2 separate regions of the Homo sapiens genome follow, and region 1 is linked to region 2. The links come from fine-mapping of genetic effects on gene expression. A gene starts in region 2. The other region holds a variant in brackets. All regions are shown on one strand. Distances are from middle to middle. Region 1 has its middle 32 kb from the start of ALS2CL. Region 2 holds the start of ALS2CL (ALS2 C-terminal like).

Region 1 (8,323 bases), 31 kb after region 2:
TCAATATCCACAACTGCCCAGCGCTCGCACGCAGAGCCAGGAGGTAAGAGTGACCGGATTAGCATCTCCCACACCAACCCCCACCTTGCAGCCCACGGGTCAGTAGCCCGGGTTCCTCCATGCAGGGATGGAGGTGGGCAGAGAAGAGTGAGGAGGATGAATTATGCAGCAGGGTCTCTCACAGCCAGTGTGGGTCTTTTCTTATTCCCCCTCCCTACCTCATAACTAAATATTTTATTTAAATGAATGGTACCTTCCTGGAGAATTGCCACAATTAGAGTCCACTTATCTTTTCAGTTTTTTTTTTTTTAGTTCATCTTTTAAGTCACCTGCTGTCTGTGGGTGGTAGGCGACATGAAATGTCCCACACAGCAGCCCTCAGATAGCTGCCTATTGCTGGTTCTCTTGGCTATGAGGGCGGCATCATTGTCCGACTGGATGTGCTCCAGGAGTTCAGATATGCAGCAGTACATTTAGGACTTGTCAAGCAGCACGGCCCACGTTCCCCGCAGATGGGAATTGCTGCATCTACGGTCGTCAGCACCCAGTGGTGCTCCTGGCAGAAGGGGAAGGGGTCCGTGGAGTCTGTTTTCCAGGACTGGCCAGGTCAGTGTACTGGAGTGCACAGGTCGCTGTGTGCACTGGAGTCACTTTGTCCCTTGACTGTGGAGCTGGTACACTTGCAGGCTTGCTTGGCCTCATGTGCTGGCCTCACTAGGCTTTGACGTGGGCCCCAGTCCTGAGCTATGGACAGATGGCCAGGCCTCGTGTGATGGTGTATCCAGGTGGCTCTGATGCTTACCTGGGCTATGCAGAATTGGTCAGCTTATTGGTTTCACTGACGTTCACTGCCAAGGGGTCCTTTTCACTGGGTTTTCAGAGGCCCTGGGCCCTGTGCAATCTGAAGCCTAATGTTTGTCCCAACCAGGGTTGGGACTTGACATCCAGTTGTTCCATTGTCAAGTGCCAGACCACATGGTCAGCCCACTGGCTGTGAACTTTGGTGGGGGCTGTTTCCAGGGCAAGAACCATAGCCTGCACCACTGCCCCTGGCCAGACTTCTTTCTTCATATGCAGCTTTCATCAGTGTTTTCTGTGGGTCCTGTAGCTTGGCTGATCTGTCTGTGAATCAGGCCCAGGCCTCCTCAGGGACTGCGCTGTGGTGAAGTTCACAAGGAGCCTGAGGTGCTGGTGCAGACCCCAGGTCTGGGGTAGCTGCCCCTGGCGGGTGATTGCCACTTTTTCAGGCTGATGGGAGATTCCATTGATGCCTGGCTTCCTCCTTTCTTGGCTGTCCCCCTGTCATTTGATGACAGACATTTGCTGGGCAGTGTCCACTGTGTTGGTGTCTTTCCTCCAGACCCACCCTATAAGGGTCTGCCTGGGAGGAACCATGCATGGGGAGCTCTACCCTCAGTGTCTACCTACACCCAGCTGCAAGTCAGTAATTACCACTCGAGGGGGTGTGCTGGGCCCTGTCTGTCAAGTCACTGCTGTACTCAGAACACCAGGGGTCACCTTTGTTGACTGCCAGCATCCTGCTGCAACTGGCTCCAGGCTGAGTAATTGTCCGCCACGCACACTCATAATTTTCAAGGCTCTTCAGGACTAATTGGCTGGGGAGGGCAGTCCGCACAGCTGCTGGATGGTTTCCTTACGCACCTCTTCCTCTACAGCTCTTTAGTGCTGTGGCCCCTGCCCTCTTCTATTCTATGCTGCTTTACTGCCATCAAGTGGCTGGGCAGGTGAAGCCTGGTGGGCTCCCAGGTGTGTGCTTGTCCCACCGGCCACTGTCCTAACTGTGGCCCTTCCCCTGTGGGAGCAGACCTTGCAGTCAGGAGTCACAGCATCGGCTGATGTGCAGAGCTGCTCTCTCCTTCCAGGCCCCCGACCCAGCCTCCTCCTCTATTTCATCCTGTCTGGTTTTGTTTTTGTTTTCATTTTTACATCTCCCTGAGCCCAAGAACTCTCTGGACATCAGGAGGGGCAGCATTTGGTTGGCTGGTTTCAATTCTTCCTCTTGCTACTCAGCCTGCAAACATTCCTCAGGAGGTAGGACAGAGGGGTACCCTGTTCCCCTCCTCTCACCCTCCCTGGGTGACAGCATGCCTGGGCGATCCTGGGGTCTTCCACATCTCTTCATTTGGTCGGCCACGTGGGCCTCTTCTGTCTTCTCTCCAGAAAGGCATTGTACCCTTACTGGCCCCACGTTTGGGACCAATTTATCAAACTGTGAAGCAATTTCCAAGCGACAGCGTGGGTGGCTACATGACTGCAGCTGCTGGTGGATTTGGCGCACTTCCATGCATCCAGCCAGGGATGAGACAATGAGCCCACGTGGATTTAGACAGTTTATTATTTACAAGAACAGCAGAAGCAAAATGGGCAGGAGGTCAGCTCCCTTGTCCCTCATCCCACAGTCTGACTCTGACCCGGAGGGATCGGATGACAGTGTGAGCAGAGGGTCACTCAGCCATTTAGGAGCTGCCTCCATATTACAGCCAAACAATTTTGTAGCCTGCAGCTGAGAAAGACCTCTCAGTGGCTTCTCCCAAGTCTTAGCTCCCCTGGCTGCAGGAGGAATTGTAGGGCATTCAGCCGAGACACAGGTTGGACCGCAGCTGAGCCTTGCTTATGTGGCCTGCGTGGATACGCGCAAGATTCCCAGGGAGTCGTGCAGAGTCACAGACCATTCTCCACTCCGTTTCCTAATGGAGATCTGACACCCTCCCTCACCCATCTTCAGAGCTTCCCTTCATCCCTGGTCAGGCCCTGATTGAGAGTGCACCCCTCAGTGCTGAGCACTCTGATCTGGGATTCCTCCCTCCTCGTCCACACCTCTGTTCCATCAGCACCTCTGTCAGCCCGAAGGCAACATGGGTCTTGGGCACATCTGCTTCTCTCCGTGCCCATGCACACCCTTCTCCAGGCCCTGGTCCCCTCCCAGCTGGACACCTCCTGCCCCAGCCTCCTCCCTGGTCTTCCTGCTGCCTCTCCCGCCCCCATCCCAGCCAGGTGCCAACACTGCAGCCAGAGGCAGCTTCGTGAAATCAACCCTGCTGACATCCCTCCATGGCTTCCCAGTGCCTAGAATCAATCCAGCCTCTTTCTCTTGACTCACAGGCCCGGTCCCTGGGGTCGCCCTGGAATCCCTCTGCCAGCCCCTCATGACTCCTACCCCCTTTCCTCTCTGTGCTCTCGTCACTCTTGCCACCTGTCTTGATGCTCCTGGAGCCCCCTGAGCCTCTCCCACCTCATGGCCCTGCACTGGTGTCCTCCTCCTGGCCCTCACTCTCCCTGGAGCAGTCTCATTCTTGTCCTTCAGGTTCCAGGCTAAACAGTGCTTCCCACGAGAGGCTTCCCTGACCCGCGGTTTGCCGCCTCTGCCCTCTCCCTGTATCCTGTCATTGAGCACGTTTTGTCCTCACTGACACCCTCTCCTGGCTAAATCCCCCACTCCTTGCTGGACTGGGTGCCTGGGGAGGGCAGGGAGAGGCCTCCTCTGTCTTGGTCACTACTTCATCCCCAGGGCCTTGAACTGTGCTCTGCACAAGATCCATTAAGTGAATGAATCACAACAATGAGGCTGCAGCTCCCCAGCACCTTCTATGCCCTCCCCCTCCCCATCTAATCTAGTTTAGTGAATGGAACAGCGGGGGATTCAAGGCAGCTGTTGCTCCTCAGTGTGGCGCTAGTTGGGGAGTTAGAGGGAAGAGTTCAGTTTGACTCCAGGACAGGGCTTGAATAATTCAGAACACTGTTTTTTTTTCTTTTGCCACAGAGTCTCACTCTGCTGCCCAGGCTGAAGTGCAATGGCATGATCTCTACTCACTGCAACCTCTGCCTCCCAGGTTCAAGTGATTCTCCTGTCTCAGCCTCCCAAGTAGCTGGGATTACAGGCATGCACCACCTGGATAATTTTTGTATTTTTAGTAAAGACAGTGTTTCACCATGTTGACCAGGCTTGTCCTGAACTCCTGACCTCAAGTGATCCACCCACCTCAGCCTCCCAAAGTGCTGGGATTACAGGCATGAGCTACCACACCTGGCCCAGAACATTATTGATGACACCCCTGAGGCTGGGGAGCCATGACCCTGCCCCTTTAAGGACCCTGCTCCGAACTGAAACAGTAACACACATCCATGAGCTAGGACAGGGAAGAGAATGACAAGGACTCTAAACCACCCAGCAGTGAAATTTCCAATGGAAATAAGACCCACTGGGCCCCTCTGTGTTGGGGGTGGAGTGGGGGAGGGCAGCACTCCTGGAGACTCAGATCGGTTTTCAGGTTGTTTGCCCCAGCACTAAGC[C/T]GAGAAGTGAGCAAGGAGGGTTTGAAGCTTCAAGTCCACACCCAAGGTCTGCTCAGTGGGAAATCCTTCATCCCTGAACCCACCAGCAATTCCAGACCCAGGGGTGAAGGGAGGTGCAGGTGAGGGTGAGTATAACATGTGGCTTTTCCTGGAGGGCAGGGAACAGGAGTGGGAAGTCAGAGCTTGGGCAACGGGGACCGAGCTGCAGGGCCATGTGACCTAGTGCCCCAGGGGATTTGGCTGTCTTCCTTGGCTCCCGGAGCTCAGAGCAGTGCTGCAGCTCATGCCAGGGCATGTGAAGACAGAGCTAACTGGAGTGCATGGGGTGCCTTTGGGTGGAGGTTGCTGATGGCTGGGACAGATGCACCCTGCCCACTGTCTCCTCTGGGGACAGTGACATCTTTCCCTGCTCTGATAGCTTGAAAGGACCTGCATGGCTGAGCTGCCCAGGGGAGCATTGAGGTGCTTCCTCTGTGTCCTGAGGAGCCAGGTGCTCTCTGCACCCCCAGCTGCTGGAGCCCAGAGGGTGGCAGCCTGGAGCTGGGGCAGCGGTGCCTGGTGCAGTGAGGACTCGGTCTGTGTGGCCTGGTTAGCACAGGACCATGAGGAAGGGGTGAGGACCATCAATAAGAGGCCATCTCCAAGGCCTGCCTTCAGAGGCAAGCTCTTCTCTCCCACACAATTGCTTTGATCCTCGTGGGAAATGTGGTGGACCCTTTTAAGGGGCGGCAGAGAGCACTGGAGGAGAGAGAAAGGGGCCAGCAGGCACATGGGAGATACCTTGACCTCAGGGAACCACTGTTTCAAACCAGAAAGGATCTTTTATACCTTGCTGTCATGCAGCCAAACCAGGCGGACATACGAGCAAGCAGGTGCACCCACGCATCTGTACATGAGCAGTGCGGACAAGTGGCTGCAGGAGGCCCCCGGCCTGTCTCAGGCACTAGCACAGGACTATTCATCACTGGTTCCTGCATTTCTTTCAGGTTTGGCCAAGGCATCCCCAGGGACAAGCACGGATGACAGCAGGTGAGCTGAAATCAACCTGTGCTTACACAGTGAGTCTTGCCAGTGCCTCTGAGGAAAGATGACCTTGGGGAAGTGAGTGGTCATTGGTTTCCTGTGTGCCCGGTCCTTCTGGAGAAAGAGTCTGCAAAACATGCCTAGTCTGTGTGGTCACAGCAGGAAGAGGGCAGAGGTGGGGGCCCTGTCTTAGCAGACAGCACCATGAAACTGGATCTTGAAGAATGAATTTGCCAGAGGGAGGAATGGCTTGCCTGGCAGGGGGGAAGGCAGAGTCAAAGGCCCAGAGGTAGAAGGGCATGACTTTCCAGAATGCAGAGAGCTGGGAAATGAGTTGCAGGGAGGTCAGGCAAACCCCAAGTGAGAAAGACTTTCAAAACCTGCAGGGGCATTTCCCCATATCCCCTAATGTTCAGCCTCTCAGTATTTTTTTTTCTGCCCTGGTGGTGGCTTTCAAACATATCCACCAATTCTTCCACACTCTCCCCATCAAGACACAGAGGCCACGAACCTCACCTTAAACCACAGCCCTTAATGATTACAGCAGGAGAGAGCCGAGTGCCTTCTGAGGCTGCTTATAGAAAGCCACATAGGTCCTGCCAGTTCTCCTGGGATCCTTGTTCTGGGAGCCTTTAACCATCATGCTGGGAGTCTGGCAGCCCTGAGCTGCTGTGTGGGGACGCCTCAGAGAGAGAGACCCAATAGGCCCAGCCTATCCAGCATCCAGTGCCTGGAGTCTTACCAGCCCAGACACTGGGCGCGTGAGTGAGGACACTCGCGTGTGACTGCAGCCTCCATGGACTGGAACCTTAGAGATGCCCCCAGGCAACAGCTGCCTAGCAGCCCAGTCAGCCCCAGATTCCTGAGCAAAATAAACCTCGGCTATTGTTTCAAGCCATTGTTTTGGGATGGCTTTTTAGTGCAGCACTAGGTAAACGGAACAGTCCTTGCCAAACCTACTATTCATCATTTAACTTTTAGAGTTTTTCTATACTTCTACTTAAAAATGGGAATCTGTTAAAATGGGAAACTTCATATCCCTGTGTACGTGGAAATCCAGCATCAATGACCGTAAACGGAAGACAATTCTATAAACACAGAGGAAAAAAATGCATGTGTTTGGTTTCTACACAGATGCTGCTGTCTCTTGGGGCCTGCACCTCGGCAGAGGCTGATTCCAGCTTGCAGTTCTCCGCCACTTGCAGGTGCGGCATTGAAATCATTCCTTGGTATTATCTGTCTTTGTGATTAATGATAGTTTAAGATGGTACACAGCCACAACAAGTAACAGAATTTAATTTCACTAGAAATTTTAAATTGCAGAGGTGAAACAACAGAATGCCCCTTGGTGAAAGAGCAATGTCAAGCAGATGAGTAGTTTTTCCACAGTAAAAGTAACTCAGCAATTAATATTTATTTTTGGTTACAGGCGGGCATGCAGAGCATTTTTTTTTTTTTGAGACAGAGTCTCAGTCACCCAAGCTGGAGTGCAGTGGCGCAATCTCAGCTCACTGCAATCTCTGCCTCCCAGGTTTAAGTGATTCTCCTGCCTCAGCCTCCCATGTAGCTGGGATTACAGGTGTGCGCCATCATGCCCAGCTAATTTTTGTATTTTTGGTAGAGACGGGATTTCACTATGTTGGCCAGCCTGGTCTCAAACCCCTGACCTCAGGTGATCTGCCCGCCTCGGCCTCCCAAAGTGCTGGGGTTACAGGCATGAGCCACCATGCCCGGGCTCAAAGCATTCTTTAAATGAAATGTTTAGTATAGTCAAATACTGATAACCTGCTGGGTGGAGATCAAGGCGCGACTGGACTAAATTCACCAGGTGCTAGTCATTGAGTGTCTGCTGTGAGGCAGATGCCTTGCTAAGGCTGGGCATTAAAAAATGCCCAGTAGGCTGGGTGCAGTGGTTCCCAGCAGTTAGGGAGGCCAAGGTGGGAGGATCACTTGAGCTCAGGAGTTTGAGACTAGCCTCGGCAACATAGTGAGACCTCATCTGTATAAACATTTTAAAAATTAGCTGGGCATGGTGGCATGTGCCTGTAGTCCCAGCTACTCAGGAGGCTGAGGCAGGAGGATTACTTGAGCCCAAGAGGTTGAGGCTGCAGTGAGCCTTGTTTGCACCACTGCACTCTAGCTGGGGCAACATAGTGAGATCCCATCTCCACCAAAAAAAAAAAAAAAAGAGGTCCAGCATTTAGTTCTTAACTCCATTGGTTCAACATGTAAATAATTCTTCTCTGCACTACCTCCTGTCCAGTTCTGCTACCACCCCTTAGTTCAGTTTCTCCTTCCTTCTGTCTTGCAAATGTCATGGGTGATTTCCTGTGGTTAGTGTGGATTCCCTCCACAAATCACAGGGCAACTTTCTAGCATCCCAGTTCTGAGTCAACTGCACAACAGGAAAGGCACCTTCTGGAATTGACTTCTACCCTCCTTTCCAGCCACAATCCTGGCATTTATTGAACCTTGTAATCTATAATTCTGCCATATGAGTCTTCTAAAACAGTGGCCCCCAACCTTTTTGGCACCGGAGACCAGTTTTGTGGAAGACAATTTTTCCACAGACTAGGGGCGGGGTGGGGAGGTGATTTCGGGATGATTCAAGCGCATTACGTTTATTGTGCACTTTATTTCTATTATTATTACATTGTAATATGTAAAGAAATGATTATACAACTCACCAGAATGCAGAGTCAGTAGGAGCCCTGAGCTTGTTTTCCTGCAACTAGAGATGGTCCTATCAAAGGGTGATGGGAGACAGTGACAGATCATCAAGCATTAGGTTATGGTAAGGAACCTGCAACCTAGATCCCTCGCATGCGCAGTTCACAATGGGGTTTGCACTCCTATGAGAATCTAATGCTGCTGATCAGACAGGAGGAGGTGCTCAGGTGGTAATGCCGGTGATGGGGCGTGGCTGTAAATACAGGCGAAGCTTTGCTTACTCACCCACTGCTCACCTTCTGCTCTATGGCCTGGCTCC
Region 2 (8,323 bases):
TGGTGCTGTGAATGCTGGTCTGCAGATCCCTGCTTCTCCCTCCTGTACTAATTTTAGCTCCTGTGAGTTTCCTGTAGGGACCCAGTCCAGCCTCCAGGGCCTCTGAACTGGAAGCTGTGAGCAAGGCAGGGGGTAGTGGCCAGAGGACCCTGTGGAATGTTCTCTCCTGGAGCCTGAAATCCCAGGGCTTAAAGTTTAGCTCTGGGGGAGCTGGGGGTAGGAAATGAGGACCCCCAGTCACAAAGCTAGGCTAGGATCCAGGGACTCAGCCTAGGGTGGGGGTGGGAGCTGGGCAGCCTAGGCCTGTGCCACAGCAGCTGGGGCCTGCTGGGAGTTGGCTGTCCCTGACCTCATCAGCCCCAGGCTCAGCTCAGAATAGCTGTGGGGCTGGGCCAGGCCTGTGTCAGACCTGCGTGTGCTTGAGCATGTGCTTTGTGTACTAAGGCACTGGTGCACATGGGAGTGCATGTGCATTCTGCATGCAGCTTTGTGTGTGGCTGGGTATGAGTCTCAATGGCTCCAGAATCACAGGTGCCATTCACATACGTGTGTGTTCCCTGGAGTAGTGTGCAGGTCTGTGTCCCTGTGGATGGGCACATGATCTGCACACGCATACCCAGGGCTGCCACTAGAGTTGTGCAACTTGGAGTCCTTACCAGTGGGTTCAATGGTAGATGGGTCCATGTGGCACAGGGACCCACCCATTCCCTGACTGTGGAATTGTATCTGTGTGCAGCGGGTGTGGGAGTGGTGTGGGTGGGTATACACATCTGTGGTGGGATTGGCTAGGGGCCCTTGGCTGTGCTGCAGGGGACTGAAGGCAGGTGGACTCAGCAGAGGCTGTCCTTTGGGCACTACCAGAGGCCTTACCTGGCCCCAAGCCAAGAATGAGCTGTAAGAGAGGCTGGGCAGGTCTTGCCCCATTTAGCAGATAGGAAAACTGGGCTTGCAATGCCCATGAGGTCACCCAGGGAATGGGGGAAGGACTGGTCTGCTGCCCAGAGCTCAGTCAGCCTTTCTATTCCCCTAGATGTGGCTGAACAGGAAGTCTGTGCTCTAGGGAGGAAGCCGTGGGAGCCCTTCCCTTCCTGCTCGAGCCCAGGCAGCACTGCCTTCCCTCAGCTGCACGTGCAGATGATGAAAGTGAGGCCCAGAGACACCTAGCATAAGATCAGATCTGTCCTGCTCGGGGCCTTGCCCCACCTGTCCCTGTTCGTCACAAGTGGTGAGGCCATATGCTCCTCCTGAGGCCATGGCCACTCTCCAGCCCTTGCCTCCCTCCTAAGCCCCAGGGATGCCTGGTGGCCCACACCCATGCTCTAGGGGACCCATAGATCCTCTAAACCGTGCTCATCCCTGAAGGAGCCCCTTGAACCCACCATACCCCTCCTCTCAGAGTCCCACATAACCCCGAGAAGGAGGCGCAGGTAAGATATTTCACCAGCAGGGGCACTACGTTACAGAGAGGCCACACACTGCCTGTGATCACACAGCAAGAGGAAAGCAGCACAAGGCCCCATACCAGCTCTTCCAGAATGTACCGCTACCTCCCACTGCCCCACAGGCACAAAGGATCCCCACAGGGAAGACCTTGGAGGCCTGTTTAGAACCTGAAGCCTCAGTTCATTCCACCTGCTGGGGCGGTGGCTCTGCCAGGCTGTGCTGTAGACTCAGGGAGCCAAGTGCCCCAGCAGACAGTCCCGCAGGCCAACAGGGCTGTGAAGGGGAGTGGGGGCCAAGGTCCGGAGCCTGGGGGTGGAGGGCATGGGGAGGGGAGGCTTTCCCAGAGGGCCAGAGGGACACCTCACCAGAAGCCTCCTTGAGGTAGCCCCCACCCACCAACACAGCAACACCTCTAGCAGGCAGGGACCAGAGGAGCAAGGCCTTTGGGAGTGGAGCCCCTCAGGCAGCAGGGGGTGCAGAAGGGGGCAAGAAAACAAGGCTGGAAAAGGGGAGGCCAGAGCTAGGGCGGGCTTTGGCAATGTGGGGAGGGATGGAGAAGCAGGAAGGGGCGGCTCTGCAGGATTGGGACCCAGGAGGAGAGCAATGTGGGGCAAAAGGGTGAGGTCACTGGGACCTGCAGTCACTCAGACAAGGGTCCCAGGCTGGAAACCCTCCAAGGGGTGATGTGCAGCTTGGCAGACAGTAAACTCCCACCTCGCAACAACCCAAGGGAGCCAGGGGATGAGCTTGGCAGGCCCCAGGCCCCTACTTACCTCCACTGGGGGTCTCTTCAGCCTGGCAGGTTGGGGGATGCCTCCCACCTCCTCAGTAGGGGGCTGAGTAGGGGGCTGGTGGGCCACCCTTTCTGCTCTTCCACGGCCGCCTTGGACCCTGAGCCTCCCCCTCACTGGAACCTGAGTGCCACTGAGAGCAATGGGTGACTAACCTGGTGGCCAGAGGGGGAATCAGGCTGCTGACGGGGGGCTTCTTTGTTACAGGTTTGAACTAAGTTCCCTCCCGCTCCCGGGGGGTCTGTCCCAGATAAGTCTTCAGCCACCCTTTCCAAGGTCTCAGGCCTTCGCACAAAGCACACGCGGCCGGCTTCATGCTCTACTAGGCCTGTTGAGACTCAGGAGTGGGGAGGAAAGGGGACTTCCCCAAGGTCGCACAGGAGGGGCGGCCGGCCGTGGACACCCAGCCCAGGGGGCCGCAGGGCGCCTCAGTATACCCCTCTACAGGCTCCAAGTTCCACGAACCCACACAGCGCTCCGCGTGTGCTGGCTTCTGTGACTCAGGGCAGACCCGGGAGGTCACGGGGCTGCACCACAGGCTCGCAGAGCGACTGACTGGCGGGGCGAGGTGGTGGCACGGCGGCCTCGGAGCCTTGCAGGGGAAGCGGGGCGCGAGAGGCGAGCCTGAGTGTGCGCGTGGGTGCGTAGGGGGCGGAGGGGTCAAGACTCCCACTTTTCCTCCCCGCGCCGGGTCCCAGGGGCCTCCGGATCCCGGGGGACGCCAGAGGGAGGCCTCAGGAGAGGCTTGGGGCGGCGGGACGGATCAATACCGCGCGCCAGCTCCTCGGTGGCCCGCCCGTGGCCCCCGCAACTCCAGAGCAACACCCGGAGGCGGGGCGGGGCGGGGCTGGGCGAAGGGGGCGGGGCTGGCAGGGGGCGGGACTGGCAGGGGGCAGGGTGGGGGTGCGAGCGAGGAGCCGCACAGGCAGTCCCGGCGCGGGGCAACCACAGCGCTCAGGTAAGGGCGCGACGAAGGGCGCGCGTCTGCGGACGGGTGTCTGCGCTCCACGCTTAGCTCGTCCAGGTGGGGGCTCCCGCCTCCTCGGCTGCTGCGGTCCCCGCCCAGCTCCTTGGTCCCGGCGGCAGTCATCCCCCGGCCGTCCGAGTCCCTCGTAAGATACCCCGCTCACAGCGTCGTCCTCCCTGCCTGGCTGCTAGCCTGCTTGGGTTCGGGGCAGCGCCCCGGGCCTGACCTGAGCCGTGGTGGCAGGGCCACGGGGCCCCAGCCAGCAGGAGAGACTGCCAGGAGGAGGTGACGCCGGCTGGTTAGGGCGGAAGGGCCCGACCCGGGATTCCAGGAGGTGGCCTTTTCGCATGGGAGCGGCATGGCAAATGCCTGGCGGCCGGAACAGGAGCTCGGGTCTGGGAAACTCCAGCGACTGAGTGTGTGCCTGGGCAGGGAGAGGAAGGGAAGCTGGGACATATGCGACAGCAGGGAGGGGTGCTTGTCTAGGACAAGAGGCTTGTAGCCATGGTGGGGCCGAGGAAGGGTGCAGCGGGGAGAGGCGAGCATGAGACTGAGGGATCAGGTGTGACAGTTCAGCGCCCCCTCCCTGGGGCAGTGCGTGTCTCTACTCTCCCCCACTGGGCACCAGACAACGAAGGGGCTGCCACGGCAGCCCATGAAAAAGCCTCCACAGCAGGCAGAACTTCCCTGCCTGTTCAGACCAGGAAATACCAGAGTGAGTGAGTGTCACGACAAGGTGTGTCAGGGGCCTAAGGAGCCAGGCCTGGGAGAGGACAGGGAAGGCCCCAGTGACCCTGCCCGGGAGGGACCTAGCGTGGACAGAGGCCAGGAATGCAGAGGAGAGACCAGGTCTGGCTACTGGTTAGAGCGCCACAGGGGCAGCCGCTGACTCACCTGGGCACGCCGTGACTGGCCAGTTCTGTCCTCACCCTGCCCCACCCCACCGCACCCCGTGGTGAGCATCAGGGCTGCCTGAGGACAGCTGTGAGGCAGGGCCCGTCAGGATCTTGCTCTGTGCCTCAGGTGAGTTGCCCACCCTCTCTGAGCCATCTAGCTAGGTGAACCTGGTGGGCTGGAGCCAGAAGTCTGGGTCTGAGCCCTGCACAAGTTCTACACAAGGGTCTCTGGACCCTCCCATTGTTCCTGGGCCTCAGTTTCCCCATCTGTACATTAGGCACAGCCTGTCACTAAGGAACCTTTGAACTGGAGGGAGGGAGAGGGTGAGGAAGCTATGCCCTTGACTGGAAGGGGGAAGGTTAGGGATGGGACAGGGGTTGGGGAGGGGGGTACTCCTGCAGGATCCTCCTCATATTAAGGTTCAGCACCTCCTCCTCCTGCCCTGCAAACGTGCACACTCATGCACATTCACGCTGCCTCACCCCTGCACTTACACTCTCCTCATCACTTCCAGGATGAAGCCCCAGACTCCCTAGCCTGGGAGCTGGGTCCCTCAGGGTCACCTAACCAGAATCCCAGCTTCCACTGCGGCCTTCCCCCAACCCACTGCCTCACCAGCCATGCTTAACTTCTGCCCGTTCCTCTGGGTGGTGTGACTCAGTTTCCCAGGGTTATAGATCCCTTTGGGGCCACAGATGTGGAAGACTCCCAGATTAACAGTTGCCAACTTGAGTCTGGAGGACTCACCCCCGGAGTCATAGGCTGCTTTGTGGGGTGGGGAGTCTAAGGACCAGATCCCCACACCCAGAGAAGCCCCCTTCCACCTGTTTGTCCTTTTGAGGGGAGACTTAAGTAGTTTGAAAAGCTGTGATCCTCTTTGGCTGGGCGCAGTGGCTCACGCCTGTAATCCCAGCACTTTGGGAGGCCAAGATGGGTTGATCACTTGAGGCTAGGAGTTTGAGACCAGCCTCGTCAACATAGTGAGATCCCATCTCTAAAAAAAAAAAAAAAAAAGAATAGAAAGAAATACAAACAAATAAAAAGAAAAAAATGCTGTGATCTGGTTGAACCCCCATTTCGTAGAGGGGTGGCTGAGGTACAGAGAGGAGTAAGGCTGTGGATAAGTTGAAGCATGTCCAGGGCTGAGCAGCCAGGTGAGGGCTGCTCCTGGGGGAGCAGCTGAGACTGGGCAGTGGGGACGAGGGACAGGAAGCCTGAGGAGGAGAGGCTATCTCTAGGGTCAGAGAGCTCCTTGCCAGGGTATGGTGTCGGCTGGGGTCATGGTGCTGGCCCCCCGGAGAGTGTAGGGATGTTGGTGTTCAAGTCTTCCTAGCAGCGAGTTATTTACTGCAGTATCTTTTCAACGTGCACTGATCTGGTTCCTAGTCTGCATCTCCTATCCTAGCCTCACCCTTTCTTCTACCTTCCCAACCAGGCTTGGATATCCTCACCTCTTAGCTTAGACCCCAGCTGACTGCCAGCTGAGAGTGAAAAGGTCACCCCCAAAGCGCCTTTCCATTCCAGCAGTTTCGGGAGATACGGGTGAGAGTTAGGTGGGCCTGGCTGCACCCCTATTCCCTTGGCTGGGCTTTCCTTGTCTGCCTGAGCTGACCTGGAGCCCCCTGTGTCCTGGGGGCCTGGGTCTGCCTCAGGGGCCCACAGAGGGAGAAGAAGCTGCAGCACAGAAGCTGCAGCTGGGTGTCTGGTGGCTTCCCCTTCCTGCCTCTCTCTCTGCAGCCTCACCCTCTCGAAGCAGCAGTAGCAGGAAAGGTGGGGCAGGAATGCCTGGCCTGGGCCTTTGGCCAGAGCTCTGAGGGACCCGCCCCACTCCATTCCAGAGCCAATTCCCTGGGAGTTGTAGGCTCTGCCAGGGGCCTGGGATGCCCGCATGGCACTCTCGGGGCAGGGTGGAGAGGGGAGGGCTGAGACCCCTTCCCACTCACCCTTTTGGGTCTGCCTGTGTCACCTGCCCATCGTTGGCTGCCCTGATTTTGTCCCCTGCCCCACACAGGTTGGCTAACTCCAAAGCCTCAGCGTGTCAGAGACAAGGAGAGAGACAGTCTGCGGGTCTTGGGCTAAAAGACCCTCTAACTCTCCGCCCCAGATACCTGATCAGGTCATTTGGGCAGATGAACATTGCCAAGTGAGGGTACCAGGGTCTGGTAGGGGAGGGCTTTGTTGGAGTAGAGCCTGTAGCCTGGCTGTGGGGGTAGGTTTGAGCCCAGGCCTCTCTTCACCCCTCCCTTTAGGCAGGACACTGCATTCCCAGGTGATTCCTGCCTGATTGGAAGGTCCCTCACTCCAGGGCAGGAAATCTCAAGGCTCAAGCCCACCTGCCCACCCCAAGGGCCCCCACCCATCCAGCAGGCACCCCTTCAGGGTGGATGGTTGTGATCAGTGATCCCTCTGTCTGGTTAGGGGACCATGGAGGGTCCAGGCTCCCATCCACATTGAACTCTCTCTCACTGCCTGGCACTATCTCCTCTACAACTGTCATACATTTATTTCCCCAAATGTGACTTTGGATCCCATCATTACCTTGCTCTAAAGTCCTCCATGGCTGTCCACGGCCGACTGAGGCACAGTGAAGCTGTGGTCCTTTGGGGTGCTGCTTGGTGGGCTGCCCTCAGAGGCTGGGCCCTCACACCCATGAGCCTTTACTCTCAGGGTTCCTCCACTTGCCTGCTGGGTCCTGTCTTCCTTTTCATTTCTTGCCCATCATTCGTGGCTCTAGCAGGAGGCCTCCGGACTCCCCCATACCTCCAAAACTCTCCTTGCTTACACAGCCTGGTTGGGTGACAGGGAGTCCCGAACCATGGGCTAGAGGACAGGGCTGGGATCCTCTGACAGTATGACCCTGTTTATAGAGACTGCAGAATCCCTGAAGGGAGACTTGATGGAAAGGAGGCTAAGACCAGGGCACTACTAATACTATCCTGGGCACTTGGGATCCATGGTGGATATTTGAGCAGAGGAATGAGCAGGCCAAACTGGGCTTAAAGAACATCTACCCTTTGGGGAAGAAAGGGTTGCTTCCCTTGGCAGCTCTGAGCTCTCTCTCTCCTTCAGGGACCCCTCAGCTGGGCCTAGGCAGGGAGCAGGGCAGAGGTCAGTGGCCAGTCCAGGAACTCCCCTTTGAGGCGATCTGGGCTCACTGCTCAGTTCTGATGTGGGTGGTCATGGACCTTGCTTCTGGGCACCCTGCCTGAGAGGATGGGCACTGGCCTTGCTCCTGTCTGTGCTATCTAGCTGTAACCTGTGCCCTACCTAGGAGGCCCTGAGTCCGGCACCTGGCCATGTGCAACCCTGAGGAGGCAGCTCTGCTGCGGCTGGAGGAGGTCTTCTCAGCCACCCTCGCCCATGTCAACAGCCTTGTCCTCCAGCCCCTGCTCCCAGCCGGTGAGTCTAGGCTTTCTAGTGGGGAGGGAAGGGCACCGAGGAATGATCCCAGGGACAGGAGACCTACCTTGTTGGACTTGCTGAGCCACAGCTTTCTCAACCTCAAATAGGAGTGGTGACACCTGGTATCAGCATCTTCTGATGCAGGTGGTGCGATCTTGGCTCACTGCAACCTCTGCCTCCCAGGTTCAAGCGATTCTTGTGCCTCAGCCTTCTGAGTAGCTGGGATTACAGGTGCCTGCCACCACGCCTGGCTAATTTTCATATTTTTAGTGGAGACGGGTTTTACCATGTTGGCCAGGCTGGTCTCAAAGTCTTGACCTCAAATGATCTGCCCGCCTCAGCCTCTCAAATTGCTGGGATTATAGGCATGAGCCACTGCGCCAAGTCTGACTGCTCCTTTTTTAAAGGAACGCTGAGGGGCCAGGCCATGAACCTACCTGTAGCCCAGACCAGGCTGTACAAAGAGATGGAATTCCTCCTTTCCCAGGGTAAAAAACTGGAAACTGCCCTTTGCTTGAATTTTCATCTTGCTCCCACCTAGGGCACCTGATGGTGCCGGGAGGGGAACAAGACTGACTGGAACAGGATGCCTAGGTTTTACTTCCAGTTTAATTCTCACCTGTGAGGCCTTGGACAGGTGCCTCTGTGCATCTGTGAAATGGCAGAGGACTGTGTGACCCTGTGGACTTCACATTCTGGATCTGAGTAGTCCAGGATGAGGAGGCCCAGAGCCAGGGGGGAATTCGTGTATGTACTTAGTTCCCTGAGGCTGTCAGGGTTGTCCCTGTTTAGTGAGGAGTGGGTGTGTCTCCTGTTTCCTCCT

The links. PIP is the estimated chance that this variant, and not a neighbour inherited with it, causes the effect.
Region 1: its variant is fine-mapped to the expression of ALS2CL in whole blood (TOPMed, PIP above 0.99).

What each region holds. Positions count from the first base shown.
Region 1 is chr3:46,657,251-46,665,573 of GRCh38, reverse strand. No RefSeq gene overlaps it. Among named protein-coding and RNA genes, the nearest start is that of ALS2CL, 32 kb to the left of the region's middle. RefSeq lists enhancers at 2,558-3,203, 4,184-4,779. The variant C/T (reference allele first, on the strand shown) is at 4,312.
Region 2 is chr3:46,688,512-46,696,834 of GRCh38, reverse strand. ALS2CL (ALS2 C-terminal like) reads left to right here and starts at 3,156. Exons shown (of 26, transcript NM_147129.5): 1 at 3,156-3,192; 2 at 7,370-7,497. The coding sequence starts at 7,395. It also overlaps a transcript of TMIE not described here. RefSeq lists enhancers at 1-340, 1,430-2,219, 3,801-4,592 and silencers at 2,852-2,931, 3,082-3,331, 3,062-3,356.